Linked DNA regions of Homo sapiens: region 2 is linked to region 1. Evidence: fine-mapped expression QTL. Tissue or cell type: whole blood. Region 1 holds a variant in brackets; the other region holds the start of a gene. All regions are shown on one strand. Distances are between the middles of the regions.

Region 1 (8,072 bases):
GCCGAGATAGCACCATTGCACTCCAGCCTGGAGAACAGTGAAACTGCCTCAAAAATAAATAAACAAATAAATAAATAAATAAAAATACGGACAGGATCTCCCTATGTTGCCCAGGCTGGTCTCGAACTCCTGGACTCAAGGGATCCTCCTGCCTCAGCCTCCCAAAGTGCTGGGGTTACAAGCAATGAGCCACTGCATCCAGTCAACAATAATATTGTATATTTATTTATTTAATTATTATTTTTTTGAGACAGAGTCTTTCTCTGTCACCCAGGCTGGAGTGCAGTGGTGCAATCTCGGCTCACTGCAATCTCCGCCTCCTGGGTTCATGACATTCTCCTGCCTCAGCCTCCCGAGTAGCTGGGACTACAGGCACCCGCCACCACGCCCGGCTAATTTTTTTGTATTTTTAGTAGACGGGGTTTCACCGTGTTAGCCAGGATGGTCTCAATCTCCTGACCTTGTGATCCTCGTGGCCTCCCAAAGTGCTGGGATTACAGGCGTGAGCTGCCGTGCCCGGCCAATATTGTATATTTATTAAGCACTTGTTTGCATGTCTTTCTGCTCAGCATTTCACAGACACCACCTCATGAGCTCTTTACATGAGTCCTATGAGATAGCAAGTGTGAAGCTCCCATAATGGAGGACTAAGGCCCAGAGAGGTGAAGCCATTAGCCTGAGGTCACACAAATGTGAAAGGGTGAAACTGGCAGTCTAATCTATGTGGCTTGTGACCGCCCCGACCAAATACTTTGTGTATTCAACAAGTAGTTATTGGCCAGGCGCAATGGCTCACACCTGTAATCCCAGCACTTTGGGAGGCGGAGGCAGGTGGATCACCTGAGGTCAGGAGTTCAAGACCAGCCTGGCCAATAAGGTGAAACCTCAACTCTACTAAAAATACAAAAAATTAGCCAGGCATGGAGGCGGTCACCTGTAGTCCCAGCTACTCGGGAGGCTGAGGCAGGAGAATGGTGTGAACCCAGGAGGCGGAGCTTGCAGTGAGCCTAGATCACGCCACTGCACTCCAGCCTGGGCGACAGAGCAAGACTCTGTCTCAAAAAGAAAAAAAAAAAAAAGTTAAACAGTTGAATCCAGCCACCTCTGCGCTGTCTCATGCTAGCTGCTGTCCACAGGAGACCAGACTCCCAGCTAACCCAGCTTTCTTGAAGAGGGCTCCAAAAATCACAGGCTCCAGCAGAGAAAACATGAGTTTATTACCAGATGGTGGAGATGGTGGGCCTCAAGTTTGGAAGCTGGGGGATTTAAGGGCTGGATTAGTGCCCCTACAAATGTTGGGTCCCTCAAGATCATGGTTAGGCTCACGGCCAAGAAAGAAAAATAAGTTCACAGAGGTGGGGTCTCTAGACAGGAGTAAGGCACACGGTGTGGGTGAGGCTGACATCCCCCTCTTGGTTTCATCCTGGAGCAGGGAGCAGGAGGCTCCCTCTGCAGCCACTGCCTGGTCCAGTCCTCCCAGGCAGGGCTGCCATTGTGCCTCAGCACACGCTGAACACTGAAGGGGCCTGGCCTTGGTACTTCTCATGGACTGTCTTCAGAATGGGTATGAGGTTCTCGAAGGTTGGGCGAAAGGACGCCTCTGTCTCCCAGCAGTTCTTCATGAGATGATAGACCTAGAAGGAAAAACCAGGGCTGGTGGGGGCTGCCCTCTCCACAGCAGGATAGTGGGGTCAGGGAAAGACAAAGGAAGTCTCACCTCACAGGGACATTTGTCGGGCCGTGGCAGCCTCTCCCCTCGTTCCAGCAACTCAGTGAGTCTCAGAACTGTCATCTGACCCTGAGCAATGCCTATGAGCTCAAGGAATTTCTACAGTATAAACAAGACAAGCTCTTTTCAAGAGGCAATGAAAGGCAGGCACGGTGGCTCATGCCTGTAATCCCAGCACTTTGGAAGGCTGAGGTGGGTGGATCACCTGAGGTCAGGAGTTCGAGACCAGCCTGGCCAACATGGTGAAACCCCATCTCTACTAAAAATACAAAAATTAGCTGGGCATAATGGCAGGCGCCCGTAATCCCAGCTACTTGGGAGGCTGAGGCAGGAGGATCGTCTGAACCTGGGAGGCGGAGGTTGCAGTGAGCCGAGATTGTGCCATTGCACTCCAGCCTGGGATACAAGTGTGAAACTCCATCTCAAAAAAGAAAAAGAAATCACTCTGCAACTTCATGAAATCGACTGCATGGGTTCCAATCCCACCTCTTACACTTCTCAGCTGTGTGACTTTGAATTTGAGTTCACTTCTCTGGGCCTGTTTTCTCATCCGTAAAATAGGGTAATAACATCTGCCACCTGGGATTACTGTGAACGTTAAACTAATATTCATAGAGTAAGCGTGAGTCAGGTGTTTGCCGTTATTATTAAGCCTCACAGCAGATTGTTCTTACCGTCCAGAATTTTTTTTTTGAGACAGTCTCTCGCTCTTTCACCCAGGCTGGAGTGCAGTGGCATGATCTCGGCTCACTGCAACCTTCGCCTACCGGGTTCAAGCAATTCTCCCTGCCTCAGCCGCCTGAGTAGCTGGGATTACAGGCACCTGCCACCACGCCCGGCTAATTTTTGTATTTTTAGTAGAGACGGGGTTTCACCATGTTGGCCAGGCTGGTCTCGATCTCCTGACCTCGTGATCTGCCCGCCTCGGCCTCCCAAAGTGCTGCGATTACAGGTGTCAGCCACCGCGCCCGGCCTATGCCTTTCTTTCCTTTCTTTTCTTTCTCTCTCTCTCCGTCCTGTCCTGTCTTAGACGGAGTCTCGCTCTGTCACCCAGCTGGAGTGCAGTCGGGAGATCTCGGCTCACTGCAAGCTCCGCCTCCCGGGTTCATGCCATTCTCCTGCCTCAGTCTCCTGAGTAGCTGGGACTACAGGCGCCCGCCACCACGCCTGGCTAATTTTTTTTGTATTTTTAGTAGAGACGGGTTTCACCGTGTTAGCCAGGTTGGTCTCGATCTCCTGACCTCGTGATCCGCCCGCCTCGGCCTCCCAAAGTGCTGGGATTACAGGCTTGAGCCACCGCGCCTGGCCCAGCCTATGCCTTTCTAATTGCTCTAGCAAACTCCCGGTGGGGCTGCGGGCCTGGCTCTCACCGTGGGGGGGCTCTGGCTGGAGTCACAGTGCGTCAGCAGCTCATACAGGGTCACCCCGAAGGACCAGACATCTGACGCATAGTAGAACTTATACTCCTTCAGGCACTCTGGGGCATACCTAGGGGGAGGGGGGCACTCAGGCCACGGGGGGCTGCACTGAGGGCTTGGGGATCAGACCAGGCTGAAGCCCTCACCTGAGACTGAAGGACCCTCTGGGCTCAGTTGGGACCCACCCTTAAGAGCGCAGCCTGAGCGGGGTGATATGCTCATTGGCTAGGCCGCTCATTGGCTAGGCCGGGTTAACCCCGCCCACCAGGCCAAGCCGCACTCTATACACCGCCCCTTGCCTCCATAGGCCCCACCCCCGCACCGCTAGGCCCCGCCGCGCTTCACTGGGATCATGCCCTATCATGATACCCAGCATCCGTCTACTCCACCCTGCCTGTTCCAAGTGACCCCAGCACCCCCTCAGACTGCACCCCGCCTGGTCACCAGAACACGGGGCTGTCCCCATCCTCGCGCACGCGGTAGTACTCGTGGCCTTCGGGCACGGCCTTGGCTAGGCCAAAGTCCCCGATCTTGACCAGCCTGTCGTTGTCCAGCAGCACGTTGCGCGCGGCTAGGTCTCGGTGGATGTAGTGCTGCGCGTGCAGATAGGCCATGCCCTGGGGACGGGGCAGGGCTCGTGAGTTTCAGTGGGGCGGGGTTCGGCCGGGGGCGGCGGCAGGACCTGAGCAGCCAGGAGGGCTGGGGGACAGTCAGGTCAGGCCGGTGGCTACCCGGCCGCTGGAGAGGGCCGGATGGCACGTGGCACCAAGCAAAAGGAGGCTGAGCCAGAAAGCAGGGACGGGGCTAGACGAGCAAAGCTGGGCAGGAGGGCGAGTTGGGAGGGGCCGAGCCGGCTGTGCGTGGTCCCTTGGGAGGAGGGGGTGTGGCCAAGCAAGCCAAACAGTTCGGAGGTCAGTGCAAGGACAAGACAGCCTGGGCAAACGAGCAGGGGCGGAGCGTGAGAGCAGACTGCACCGGATCGCTCAGGCCAGCCCAAGCTGAAGAGGAAGGGGCAAGCTCCAGAAGCAGGGGCGGGGCCGACCAACCTCGCAGATCTGCTGGGCGAAGAGCAGCAGCTGGGCCAGCCCGATGCTGTGCCGGGGCAGGTAGTCTCGGAGGCTGCCCAGGGGCACGTACTCCATGACCAGCTGCAGCGACTTCTCGCCTGCCGCGGAGAGGGGCGGCCCCGGTGGGGGACGATAGAGGGCGGGCCGGGGACCGCCTACCTTGAGCCCAGCAGAGCCCCTCCAAGGTCGGGAGGGAAGGCCAAGACCCGCGCACACTAGACCCAGTTCTCAGGTGGGATGGACCCATCCAGAACCCCATTCTCACTTGAGGGAGCTGCTGGTGGCTCCCGTCCATCCTGGCCCCAGCAGGTAGCACCCCCCAGATGGGAAGGAGGCAGCCCAGCCACGCTCACCCAGATGCCAAGAACCGCGTACTGCAGCCTGGGGTTGAGAGTCTCTAATTGGCTAGGCCAGACTGGCCCCGCCCACAAGGCCACACCCACGCTCTAACCACGCCCCCTC[A/G]AGTCTCTAGGACTCGCCGGGTCCCGCCCACCTTGGTCCTCGCAGCAGCCCTTGTACTTGATGATGTGCTCGTGGTAGAGCGTGCGCAGAATGTCAATCTCCTGCTTCCAGCCCGAGCGGTGCTGGGGGCCGCAGTCTGCCTTGAGGGCTTTCACCGCCACCATCTCGCCAGTGCCGTCGTTGGTCGGATCGTAGCAGTACAAGCTGACCTTGCCGAAGTGACCCTGGTCGGGAGCGCACGAGGGTCAGCTCCACCTCCCCAATCCCTGCACCACTCCCCAACCCCCGATTTCCCGGGCCACTCCTCCAGGCAGATCCTTTCGGAATACCCCAGGCCCCGCCTACTCCGCTCTATTAAGACTCCTTGGCACCTAGGCCTCCCTCAAAGCAGAGGGTCCCACCCACATCTCCTGAGAATCACCTTAGGTAGGAATTTATCCTCAACCCCCAAACTCCTTCCCGACCAGGCGGGCCTTTTAGCAGCTCAGGCCCGTCCCTCACCTCGCCCAGATCTCGGATCTTTTTCAAATAGCGCTTGTGGAAAACCGTAGGGTCCGACGCCGGTGAGTCCGGGTTCACAGTCAAGACGTCAGCAAGATCTGGAAGAGTTGCGGTGGGTAAAGGCCTGACCCCGATCCTTTCCCCAGCAGGCCCACACTTGGGAGTCACAAAGCCAGCCACAGCTACCCCAGGATCCGATTCTAGAGGTAAGAAAACTTTTTCCTGCAACAGCTGAAAGAGTCCACTTATTGTACAAAATGATGCAGAGTTGGCTGCATCAAAACTGACACCTGTTTGGGAGGCCGAGGCGGGAAGATCACTTGAGCCCGGGAGTTCAAGACCAGCCTGGACAACATGGTGAAACCCCCTCTCTACAAAAAAGTTAAAAAAAAAAATTAGCCAGGTGTGGTGGTGCATGCCTGTGGTCCCAGCTACTCAGGAGGCTGAGGTAGGAGGATCGTTTGAGCCCAGGAGTTTTGAGGCTGCAGTGAGTCTGGGCCACAGAGAGACACTGTCTTTAAAAAAAAAAAAAAGAAAGAAAGAAAGAAAAAGAAAAAACAGAAAAACCTGACATCTGGAAGTTCCGAGATTGGGTAGAGGGCACAGATATTTCATAGAGAAAAGAGAAAAACTGGCCAGGCGTGGTGGCTCACACCTGTAATCCCAGCACTTTGGGAGGCCGAGGCAGGAGGATCCCTAGAGCCCAGGAGTCTCAGGCTGCAGTGAGCCATGATCGTGCCTCTGAATAACCACCACACTCCTGCCTGGGCAACACAGCAAGACCTAGTCTTTAAAACAAAAAAGAGAAAGAAAAATGTGATATGACCAGTTGAAAATGGCATATTAGGCCGGGCGTGGTGGCTCACGCCTGTAATCCCAACACTTTGGGAGGCTGAGGAGGGTGGATCACCTGAGGTCAGGAGTTTGAGACCAGCCTAGCCAACACAGTGAAACCCCGTCTCTACTAAAAATACAAAAATTAGCTGGGTGTGGTGGTGGACGCCTGTAATCCCAGCTACTCGGGAGGCTGAGGCAGGAGAATTGCTCGAACCCAGGAGGCGGAGGTTGCAGTGGGCCGAGATCGTGCCATTGCACTCCAGCCTGTGCAACAAGAGCAAAACTCCATCTCAAAAAAAAAAAAAAGAAAGAAAGAAAAAAAAAAAGAAAATAGGTCAGGCGCAGTGGCTCATGCCTGTAATCCCAGCACTTTGGGAGGCCGAGGCGGGTGGATCACGAGGTCAAGAGACTGAGACCATCCTGGCCAACATGGTGAATTCCCGTCTCTACTAAAAATACAAAAATTAGCCCGGCGTGGTGGTGGGCGCCTGTAGTCCCAGCTACCCAGGAGGCTGAGGCAGGACAATTACTTGAACCTGGGAGACGGAGGTTGCAGTGAGCCAAGATTGCACCACTGCACTCCAGCCTGGCAACAGAGTGAGACTCCGTCTCAAAAAAAAGAAAAAAGAGCATATTAATTTTTTAAAGAGAACAATACAAAACTTTTTTAAAAAGAAAAAAAAAACTGCAGTGGTCTAATTCTCTAATCCAAAGAAGTTGTGTCTCTCCCCAGACAAAACATTAAGGAGGCCAGGCGCAGTGGCTCACGCCTGTAATCCCAGCAATTTGGGAGGCTGAAGCAGATAGATCATTTGAGGTCTAGAGTTTGAGACCAGCCTGGCCAACATGGCAAAACCCCACCTCTACTAAAAATACAAAAATTAGCCGGGCATGGTGGCACACGCTTGTAATCCCAGCTACTTGGGAGGCTGAGGTGGGAGGATTGCTTGAACCTGGGAGGTGGAGGTTGCAGTGAGCCAAGATCACGTCACTGCGCTCCAGGCTGGGTGACAGAGCAAGATTCCATTGCAAATAAATAAATAAATACATTAATGAGAGCTCAGGGCAGCCAGGCAGGGCATGCTTATGAATGCCACTGCAAGAAATTGGCACACACCCTGAACCACTGTGCAGAGACCTCTCGTGCGCTATAGGCATACAGCAGGGATCCCAGCCCCGTCCCACTTCCCCAGGGTCCCAGCACTGGGATGGAGCTCACTGTGGGGCTGCAGCCGGGTGAGGTCACGCAGGATGGTGCGGAATGATGGCCTCTGGGTTGGCTCATAGGTCAGACACTGGCTGGTGAGTGTGGCCAGCTGTGGGCAGGAGGGCTCGGGCAGCCGGTGCTGCCTCTGGTAGAAATGCTCCTTCTGTTGGGAAAGGGACCCAGAGGAGTCAACATCCTCCCCTCGCCCCCAACCCGTTCCCCAAGAGGCAGAGTCAAGTCCCCAGAGTGGACCGCCAGGTGCCCGCTCTTATCAGTTCCATTATACAGATGAGGCAACTGAGGCTCCACAAAGTGGGAGGACGTGCTCACAGCCGTAGAACCAGGACTGGGACCCAGGTCCAGTGATTATGCAGAGCTGGAGTGTCACAGTCAGCCTCCTGCCCCAAGCTTCCCTCCTGCCCCTCCTGTAGACCACAGCTCCTTAATACACTGAAGCCTCAGCCTTTGCACAGGCCATGCACTCTGCCTAGGCTGCCCTTCCTAGCCAGGCTTGTTGGCATAATTCTACACTTAGATAAAACCTCTTCTGGGGCCGGGCACTGTGGCTCATGCCTGTAATCCCAGCACTTTGGGAGGCCGAGGTGGGCGGATCACCTGAGGTCAGGAGTTTGAGACCAGCCTGACCAATATAATGAAACCCCATCTCTACAAAAAATACAAAAATTAGCCGGGTGTGGTGGCATGTGCCTGTAATCCCCCCTACTCGGGAGGCTGAGACAGGAGAATCGCTTGAACCCAGGAGGCAGAGGTTGCAGTGAGCTGAGATCACGCCATTGCATTCCAGCCTGGGCAATTAGAGTGGAACTTCGTCTCAAAATAAAACCACCACA
Region 2 (8,073 bases), 28 kb after region 1:
AAAGGCAGTGATTTGCAGCTGCCACACAGTAGATGCTTACAAAATGTTCACCGAATGAACGGGTGGATGGATGGATGGATGGATGGATGGATGGATGGATGGATGGATGGATAGATGGATGAATAGGTGGGTGGGTGGGTGGATGGATGGATGGATGGATGGATGGATGGATGGATGGATAGATGGATGAATGGGTGGGAGGATGGATGGGTGGGTGGATGGATGGATGCATGGATAGGTGGGTGAGTGGGTGAGTGGGTGGGTGGATGGATGGATGGATGGATGGGTGGGTGGGTGGATGGATGGGTGGGTGGGTGGATGGATGGATGGATGAATGGATGGATGGGTGGATGGATGGGTGGATGGGTGGGTGGATGGATGGGTGGATGGATGAATGGGTGGGTATGGATGGATCGATGGGTGGATGGATGGATAGATGGATGAATGGGTGGGTGGATGGATGGGTGGATGGGTGGGTGGGTGGATAGGTGGGTGGATGGGTGGGTGAGTAGGTGGATGGATAGGTGGATAGGTGGGTGGATGGATGAGTGGGTGGGTGGATGTATGGATGGATGCGTGGGTGGATGGATGGGTGGGTGGGTGGGTGGATGGATGCGTGGGTGGATGGATGGGTGGGTGGGTGGGTGGATGAATGGGTGGATGGGTGGATGGGTGAAAGGGTGGGTGGATGGGTGAATGGGTGGGTGAATGGGTGGGTGGATGGGTGGATGGGAGGATGGATGGATGCATGGGTGGATGGATGGGTGGGTGGGTGGATGGATGGGTGGTTGGGAGGGTGGATGGGTGGGTGGATGGGTGGATGGATGGATGGATGGATGAGTGGGTGGATGGGTGGGTGGATGGGTGGGTGGGTGGATAGACGGATGGATGGGGCCCAGCTGCTGCTTGCACACCCACCCCAGTCCCCATGGTGCCAACGCCCCAGACTCACCAACTTTATGTGCAATGTGGATGCAGACTTCCTCAGCTGTCAGCGATGACTCACTGAAAGTGACCCAGGGCTCCCCGCCGCCTGGACCAGCCCAGTGCAGAAGCACCTTCAGGCCTCCCATGGCAGCCATGGGCTGGGCTCCATCCCCAACGGGCTTACTGCCCCTGGCCATCCCCCAGTGGCGCAGAGGCATGCTCCCGGCAGGTGGCTCAGCTGGAAAGGGGACAATCTGTCAGCTCCCAAGTCTCAGCCCAGAGACCCCTGTTAGCTCTTCAACCTTCCACCCACCCCAGCTAAGGCCTGAGGGGAAGATTCTGGGCTCCCATCTTGGCATGACATTAGAGACCCGATTCCCTCTCTGAGTCTCGTTTTCCACATTTATTGGACAGGGTTGGGGTATGCATCCCCACCTAGATCTCTCATCAACAATAACACTGAACCCTCCTCTCTTTCCACAAATTGACACAGATATAAAAATCTGCTCTGGCCAGGTACAGTGGCTCACGCCTCTAATCCCAGGACTTTGGGATGTTGAGGCAAGAGGATTGCTTGAGCCCAGGAGCTCGAGACCAGCCTAGGCCATATAGCAAGACCCTGTTTCTACAAGACGTTTTATTTTATATCTTATCTTATCTTATCTTATCTTATCTTATCTTATCTTATCTTATTTTTGAGACAGAGTTTCACTCTTGTTGCCCAGGCTGGAGTGCAATGGTACAATCTTGCTCACCACAACCTCTGCCTCCTGGGTTTAAGTGATTCTCCTGCCTCAGCCTCCTGAGTAGCTGGCGCCTGCCACCACACCGGGCTAATTTTTGTATTTTTAGTAGAGACAGGGTTTTGCCATGTTGGCCAGGCTGGTCTTGAACCTCTGACCTCAGGTGATCCACCCGCCTCGGCCTCCCAAAGTGCTGGGATTACAGGCGTGAGCCACTGTGCCCGGCCTCTACAAGAAATTTTTAAAATTTAGCCAGGCGTGGGGGTGCACATCTGTACTCCAAGCTACTCGGGAGGCTGAAGTGGGAGGATCTCCTGAGCCCAGGAGTTGGAGGCTGCAGTGAGCAGTGATCGCACCACTGCATTCCAGCCTGGGTGACAGAGTGAGACCCTGACTCTAAAAATATAAATAAATAAATAAATAAATAAGTAATAAAAATATATAAAAAGGGCCAGGCGCGGTGGCTCATGACTGTAATCCCAGCACTTTGGGAGGCCAAGGCGGACAGATCACGAGGTCTGGAGATTGAGACCATCTTGACCAACATGGTGAAACCCCATCTCTACTAAAATACAATAAATAAATAAATAAATAAATAAATAAATAAATAAAAAGTAAAATAAAAATCTGCTCTTAACACACCTCCCCAAAATAACCAGACAGGCAGATGTGGTCAAACATACCTGAGGGTGAGTCCTGGAGCTCCCTGTGTCAACTCAAGCAAGCCACTTAGCAATTCTGGGCCTCAGTTTCCCCATCTGGAAAAGGGAGGTCCTCAGGGTGTTGCCATCAAAAGATGGTTGTAATGTTTCAATATAGTTCCGCATATTACACATTCAGCACAGACCCTGATTCAGGCACACACAAAAAGAACAAATATGACCAAAACAAGAATAACATAATTGTTATTAGTTTCATCGTGGTGATGGCCTCTTTCAGGCCACAATTCTCCTCTCCCACATTTACCCCCATGAGTGACCTCAGTCCCTGTTGACTCCCCAAAGCCTAGGAGAGTTTATGTCCAGCTCCATCCCCCCAATCCAGGGCCTGAGCCTCCTGAGGGCGCCAGTATGGAAGTGGAGGGGCTGTCACTTCCACCCATGTTGCTGGTTTCCTCATCTGGAAAATGGGCATGTAACAGTGTCTACCTCAAAAGGCTGCTGGGAGGATTTAACGCGAGGAGGCAGAGAAAGTGCCTGGTATACAGTAAGCGCTTAATTAGCCTTTGCCATTAATACCTATTCATGTTATAGATGAGATCCCGGGGATGGGGCTTTCGCGGAGCCTACTTCCTCCTTCCTCCTTTCTCGTCCCCACTGGACCCAGACCCAGCTTTGAAGACAGGGTCGGAGTGAAGTTTGCAACTGGGAAGGCTGCACGCCCCCATGTCCTCCCCCCAAAACCTCTAAACCCGGCCGGCAACGGCGGGAACTGGGATGTGCACCCACCGGGCATCGGAGCAGTCCCGAGGCACCAGGTGCTCCCATCCAAGTGCAGCCTGTCAAGCGCAGCCAGTCCCCGCGGCTTCTTCCTGAGGACCTCCGGCCGCGCTCCTTCCGCGCCCGCGTCCAGACTCACCCTTCCGGGGGAACACAAGCTCGAACCCGGACCCCTCCCCGCTCCCGCGGGTAGCTACTGCTTGTCCCCCGCCGAGACGCCTCCTCCCATTGGCCGCCTGAAACGCACACGCCCATTGGCAGCTGCTCTGTTCTCCCTGCTCGTCACCATTGGATTTTTTTTTTTTTGCCATGGTGGCGGCACTCTCATTGGTCCTGGGGCTCATTCGTCACTCAGCCGCGATTGGCTGAGTCGGCACCCAGATGCGCTGTCGCTTCTGCTATTGGCTGGCACTCGGTGGACGGAGACGGGGGAGGGGCTTGCGAGAGGCGGGAGGGAGAGCGAAGTGTGTGGGCAACGCGGCCGGATCCTGGAGTTCCCCTCCGTGCTGTGGAATTGGGTCAGGCGTGTACGGTCCTGACCCTAGGACACAGCTGCATGTCCTCACCTCGGTGTTCAAAGCTGCACCGGCCACCATTCAACCCTCCGACGCCCTGCCCTTTGGCTTCCCCGTTCCATCCGGTCCTGTCTCCTTTCCCTCGTTTCTACCTGGCCGACTCCATCCTGCTGACTAGAATTCCCCCTCCTTCACTCCTGGGAGGCATTCCTCGCCCACCTGCCCCAGTCCTCTTCCTGATCACCTGCAGCCCTGTCCTCTGAAGCTCCCTAGCGGTCAGGGTAGCAGCTTGGACATCCCGCCAGACGTGAATTCAAATCCCCACTCCGCAAGTCGTGCCCATTTGCTGAGAAGCCTACAGCCAGAGCGTTTCACATACATTATCTCATTTGATCCTAGCAGCAATTCCCTGTATGGCGGCTCTTATTATCCCCATTTCACAGAGGAAGAAACTCAGGCATGAAGAGGTAACAAAGACCGTCCTCTGACCCTTCTTCTGTGCCACACCATAACCACTCCTCGACTTTGTCTTTCACCTGCCCAGCCAAGTCTTAGCAAAGAAGCCTATTAAGTCATCCGCTCATCCTTGATGTCTGATCAACTTCCTCATCTTCCACTTTTTTTTTTTTTTTTTTTTAAGATGGAGTTTCGCTCTTGTCGCCCAGGCTGGAGTGCAATGCTGCGATCTCGGCTCACTGCAACCTCAGACTCCCGGATTCAAGCGATTCTCCTGCCTCAGCCTCCTGGGTAGCTGGGACAACAGGCGCCCGCCACCACGCCCGGCTAATTTTTGTATTTTTAGTAGAGATGGGATTTCACCATCTTGGCCAGGCTGGTCTCGAACTCCTGACCTCGTGATCCACCCTCCCAAAGCGCTGGGATTACAGGCGTGAGCCACCGCACCCGGCCCTTTTGTTGTTAATTTTTAAATTTTGTGGCTAATTTTTAAATTTTTGTAGAGATGGGGTCTGGCTATGTTGCCCAGGCTGGTCTTGAACTTCTGGCCTCAAGCAATCATCCTGCCTTGGCTTTCCAAAGTGCTGGGATTACAGATGTGAGCTAAGACACCCAGCTCCATGGAGTTGGTCTTAACTGCCATGGCCAAGGGACATGTGGCTGCTTCTCTCTGAGTCAGAAAATATGGGTAAAAAGCCTCCTCACAGGGCAGCTGTGGACATTCAGTATGAAAATGCTGAAAGAGATCGGGAATGGTCTCTTTCACACCTGTAATCCCAGCACTTTGGGAGGTGGAGGCGGGCGGATCACCTGAGGTCAGGAGTTCAAGACCAGACTGGCCAACATGGTGAAACCCTGTCTCTACTAAAAATGCAAAAATTAGCTGGGCATGGTGGTGGGCACCTGTAATCCCAGCTATTCAGGAGGCTGAGGCAGGAGAATCGCTTGAACTTGGGAGGCAGAAGTTGCAGTGAGCCGAGATCACACCATTGCCCTTCAGCCTGGGCAACAAGAGCTAAACTCTGTCTCAAAAAAAAAAAAAGAAAAAGAAAAAGAAAGAAAATGCTGATAGAGGCCGGGCACAGTGGCTCACGCCTGTAATCCCAGCACTTTGGGAGGCCGAGGTGGGCGGATCATGAGGTCAGGAAATCGAGACCATCCTGGCTAAGGCGGTGAAACCCCGTCTCTACTAAAAATACAAACAATTAGCTGGGCGTAGTGGCAGCCTGAGGCAGGAGAATGGCGTGAACCGGGGAGGCGGAGCTTGCAGTGAGCCGAGATTGCGCCACTGCACTCCAGCCTGGGCGCCAGAGTGAGACTCTGTCTCAAAAATAAAATAAAATAAAATAAAATAAAATGCTGATAGAGACTTGTCCTGGCTGGATGCAGTGGCTCATCCCTATAAACCTAGCACTTCAGGGAGCTAAAGAAGGAGTACTGTCTGGGCCCAGTTCAAGACCAACCTGGGCAATATAGCAAGACCCCATCTCTACCCAAAATAAAAAAAATTAGTCTAAGGCTGAAGTATGAGAATCGCTTGAGCCCAGGAGGTGGAGGTTGCAGTGGGCTGAGATCCCACCACTGCACTCCAGCTTGGGCTACAGAGTGAGACTCCATCTCGGGGGGAAAAAAAATTAGTTAGTCCCAGCTACTCCGAAGGCTGAGGTGGGAGGATTGCTTGAGCCCAGGAGGTTGAGGCTACAGTGAGCCGTGATCACACCACTGCACTCCAGCCTGGGCAACTTGACCTCCTGGGCTCTGCTGTATTTTCTTCAGAGTCCTTATTGCAACCTGACATTTCATGGGAAGTTTCTTTCTTTTTTTTTTTTTTTAAAGAGACAGAGTCTTGCTCTGTTGCCCAGGCTGGAGTGCAGTGGCGCAATCTTGGCTCACTGCAACCTCTGCCTCTCAGGTTCAAGCAATTCTCCTGCGTCAGCATCCCCGGTAGCTGGGATTACAGGCGTGCACCACCACGCCTGGCTAATTTTTGTATTTTTAATAGAGACAGGGTTTGGCCAGGTTGGCCATACTGGTCTCGAGCTCCTGACCTCAGGTGATCCACCCGCCTTGGCCTCCCAAAGTGCTGGGATTACAGATGTGAGCCACCGCGCCCAGCTGGGTTTCTCTTCTTTCTTTCTTTCTTTTTTTTTTTTTTTTTTTTTTTTTTGAGACAAGAATCTCGCTCTGTTGCCCAGGCTGGAGTGCAGTGCTGTGATCTCAATTCACTGCAGTCTCAACTTCCCAGATTCACCATTCACAATCTTCCACCTCAGCCTCCTGAGTAGCTGGGACTACAGATGTGCATCACGATGCCTGGGTAACTTTTTTTTTTTTGAGGCGGAGTCTTGCTCTGTTGCTAGGCTGAAGTGCAGTGGCACGATCTCGGCTCACTGTAATCCCTGCCTCCCAGGTTCTAGCGATTCTTCTGCCTCAGCCTCCAGAGAAGCTGGGATTACAGGCGTGTGCCACCACACCCAGCTAATTTTTTTGTATTTTTTAGTAGAGATGGGGTTTCACCATGTTGGCCAGGATGGCCTCAATCTCCTGACCTCATGATCCTCACGCCTCGGCCTCCCAAAGTGCTGGGATTACAGAAGTGAGCCACCGCGCCCAGCCGCCTGGCTAACTTTTGTGTGTGTGTATTTTTTATAGAAATGGGCTTCCACCAACCCCGTCTCTACTAAAAATACAAAAATTAGCCGGGTGTGTTGGTGGGTGCCTATAATCCCAGCTACTTGGGAAGCTGAGGCAGGTGAATCACTTGAACCTGGGAGGCGGAGTTTGCAGTGAGCTGAGATCGCGCCACTGCACTCTAGCCTGGGCGACAGAGTGAGACTCTATCTCAAAAAAAAAAAAAGGAAAAGAAATGGGTTTTCACCATGTTGCCCAGGCTGGTCTCAAACTACTGGGCTCAAGTGGTCCTCCCGCCTTGACCTCCCAAACTGCTGGGATTACAGGCGCATGCCACCACACCCGGCTAATTTTTTAGTATTTTTTAGTAGGGACGAGGTTTCACCATGTGGGCCAGGATGGCCTTGATCTCCTGACCTCGTGATCCTCCCGCCTTGGCCTCCCAAAGTGCTGGGAATACCGGTGTGAGCCACCTCGCCTGGCCGGCTGGCTAACTTTTGTGTGTGTGTAATTTTTTTAGAAATGGGTTTTCACTATGTTGCCCAGGCTGGTCTCAAACTACTGGGCTCAAACTGCTGGGCTCAAGTGGACCTCTGGCCTTGACCTCCCAAACTGCTGGGATTACAGGCATGAGCCACCGTGCCCAGCCCCTGGGAAGTTTCTTTGAGCACAAGTTCTATTGCCTGTCTGCGGTTCTAGGACCGCACCAGAAAGAGGTCCGTCTGGTTGTCTGCTAAGCCCTCAGTGCCTGAGATTGTGCATCCAGCCCAGTAGGTGGCTTAAGAAGCCACAGCTGGAGGGGAATGAATGGCCTGGGAGCCAGGAATCCCTGGCTGTTGTCCTGCCTGCTGCGGGAGGGCTGGCTGTGAGCTTCCTCTCTGTCGCCGCTTAGAGTACAGTACCTAGAAGCCAAGAGTGCCAGATTTTTCTTTTTCCTTTTTTCTTTTATTGAGAGAGGGAGTTTCGCTCTTGTTGCCCAGGCTGGAGTGCAATGGCACAATCTCGGCTCACCACAACCTCTGCCTCCTGGGTTAAAGCGATTCTCCTGCCTCAGCCTCCCAAGTAGCTGGGATTACAGGCATGCGCCACCACGCCCGGCTACTTTTTTGTATTTTTAGTAGAGATGGGGTTTCTCCATGTTGGTCAGGCTGGTCTTGAACTGCCGACCTCAGGTGATCCACCCACCTCGGCCTCCCAAAGTGCTGGGTAATACTGGTGTGAGACACCGTGCCCGGCCTAGAGAGTGCCAGATTTTTCAACAGCCATTGGGGCAATGCTCCGTGATTAGATGCTAGAACACAGTGGGCCGAGTGGGCCTGGGACCCGGTATTCCCCGCTCCCAAAGGAACTAGAAGGAAATGC

Evidence for each region. PIP is the estimated chance that this variant, and not a neighbour inherited with it, causes the effect.
Region 2: TYK2 starts here. The variant in region 1 is fine-mapped to the expression of TYK2 in whole blood (TOPMed, PIP above 0.99). The same link has a PIP of 0.9 or more in lung, pancreas, sigmoid colon, spleen, subcutaneous fat and thyroid.

Annotation. Positions count from the first base shown.
Region 1 is chr19:10,349,335-10,357,406 of GRCh38, forward strand. TYK2 (tyrosine kinase 2) reads right to left here. Exons shown (of 25, transcript NM_003331.5): 18 at 7,234-7,384; 19 at 5,178-5,275; 20 at 4,708-4,900; 21 at 4,194-4,312; 22 at 3,592-3,764; 23 at 3,100-3,217; 24 at 1,718-1,828; 25 at 1,199-1,634. The coding sequence ends at 1,500. Among named protein-coding and RNA genes, the nearest start is that of ICAM3, 14 kb to the left of the region's middle. RefSeq lists an enhancer at 3,913-4,676 and a silencer at 4,578-4,627. The variant A/G (reference allele first, on the strand shown) is at 4,677.
Region 2 is chr19:10,377,262-10,385,334 of GRCh38, forward strand. TYK2 (tyrosine kinase 2) reads right to left here and starts at 3,311. Exons shown (of 25, transcript NM_003331.5): 1 at 3,119-3,311; 2 at 2,354-2,518; 3 at 953-1,165. The coding sequence starts at 1,145. RefSeq lists enhancers at 3,209-3,368, 3,277-3,940.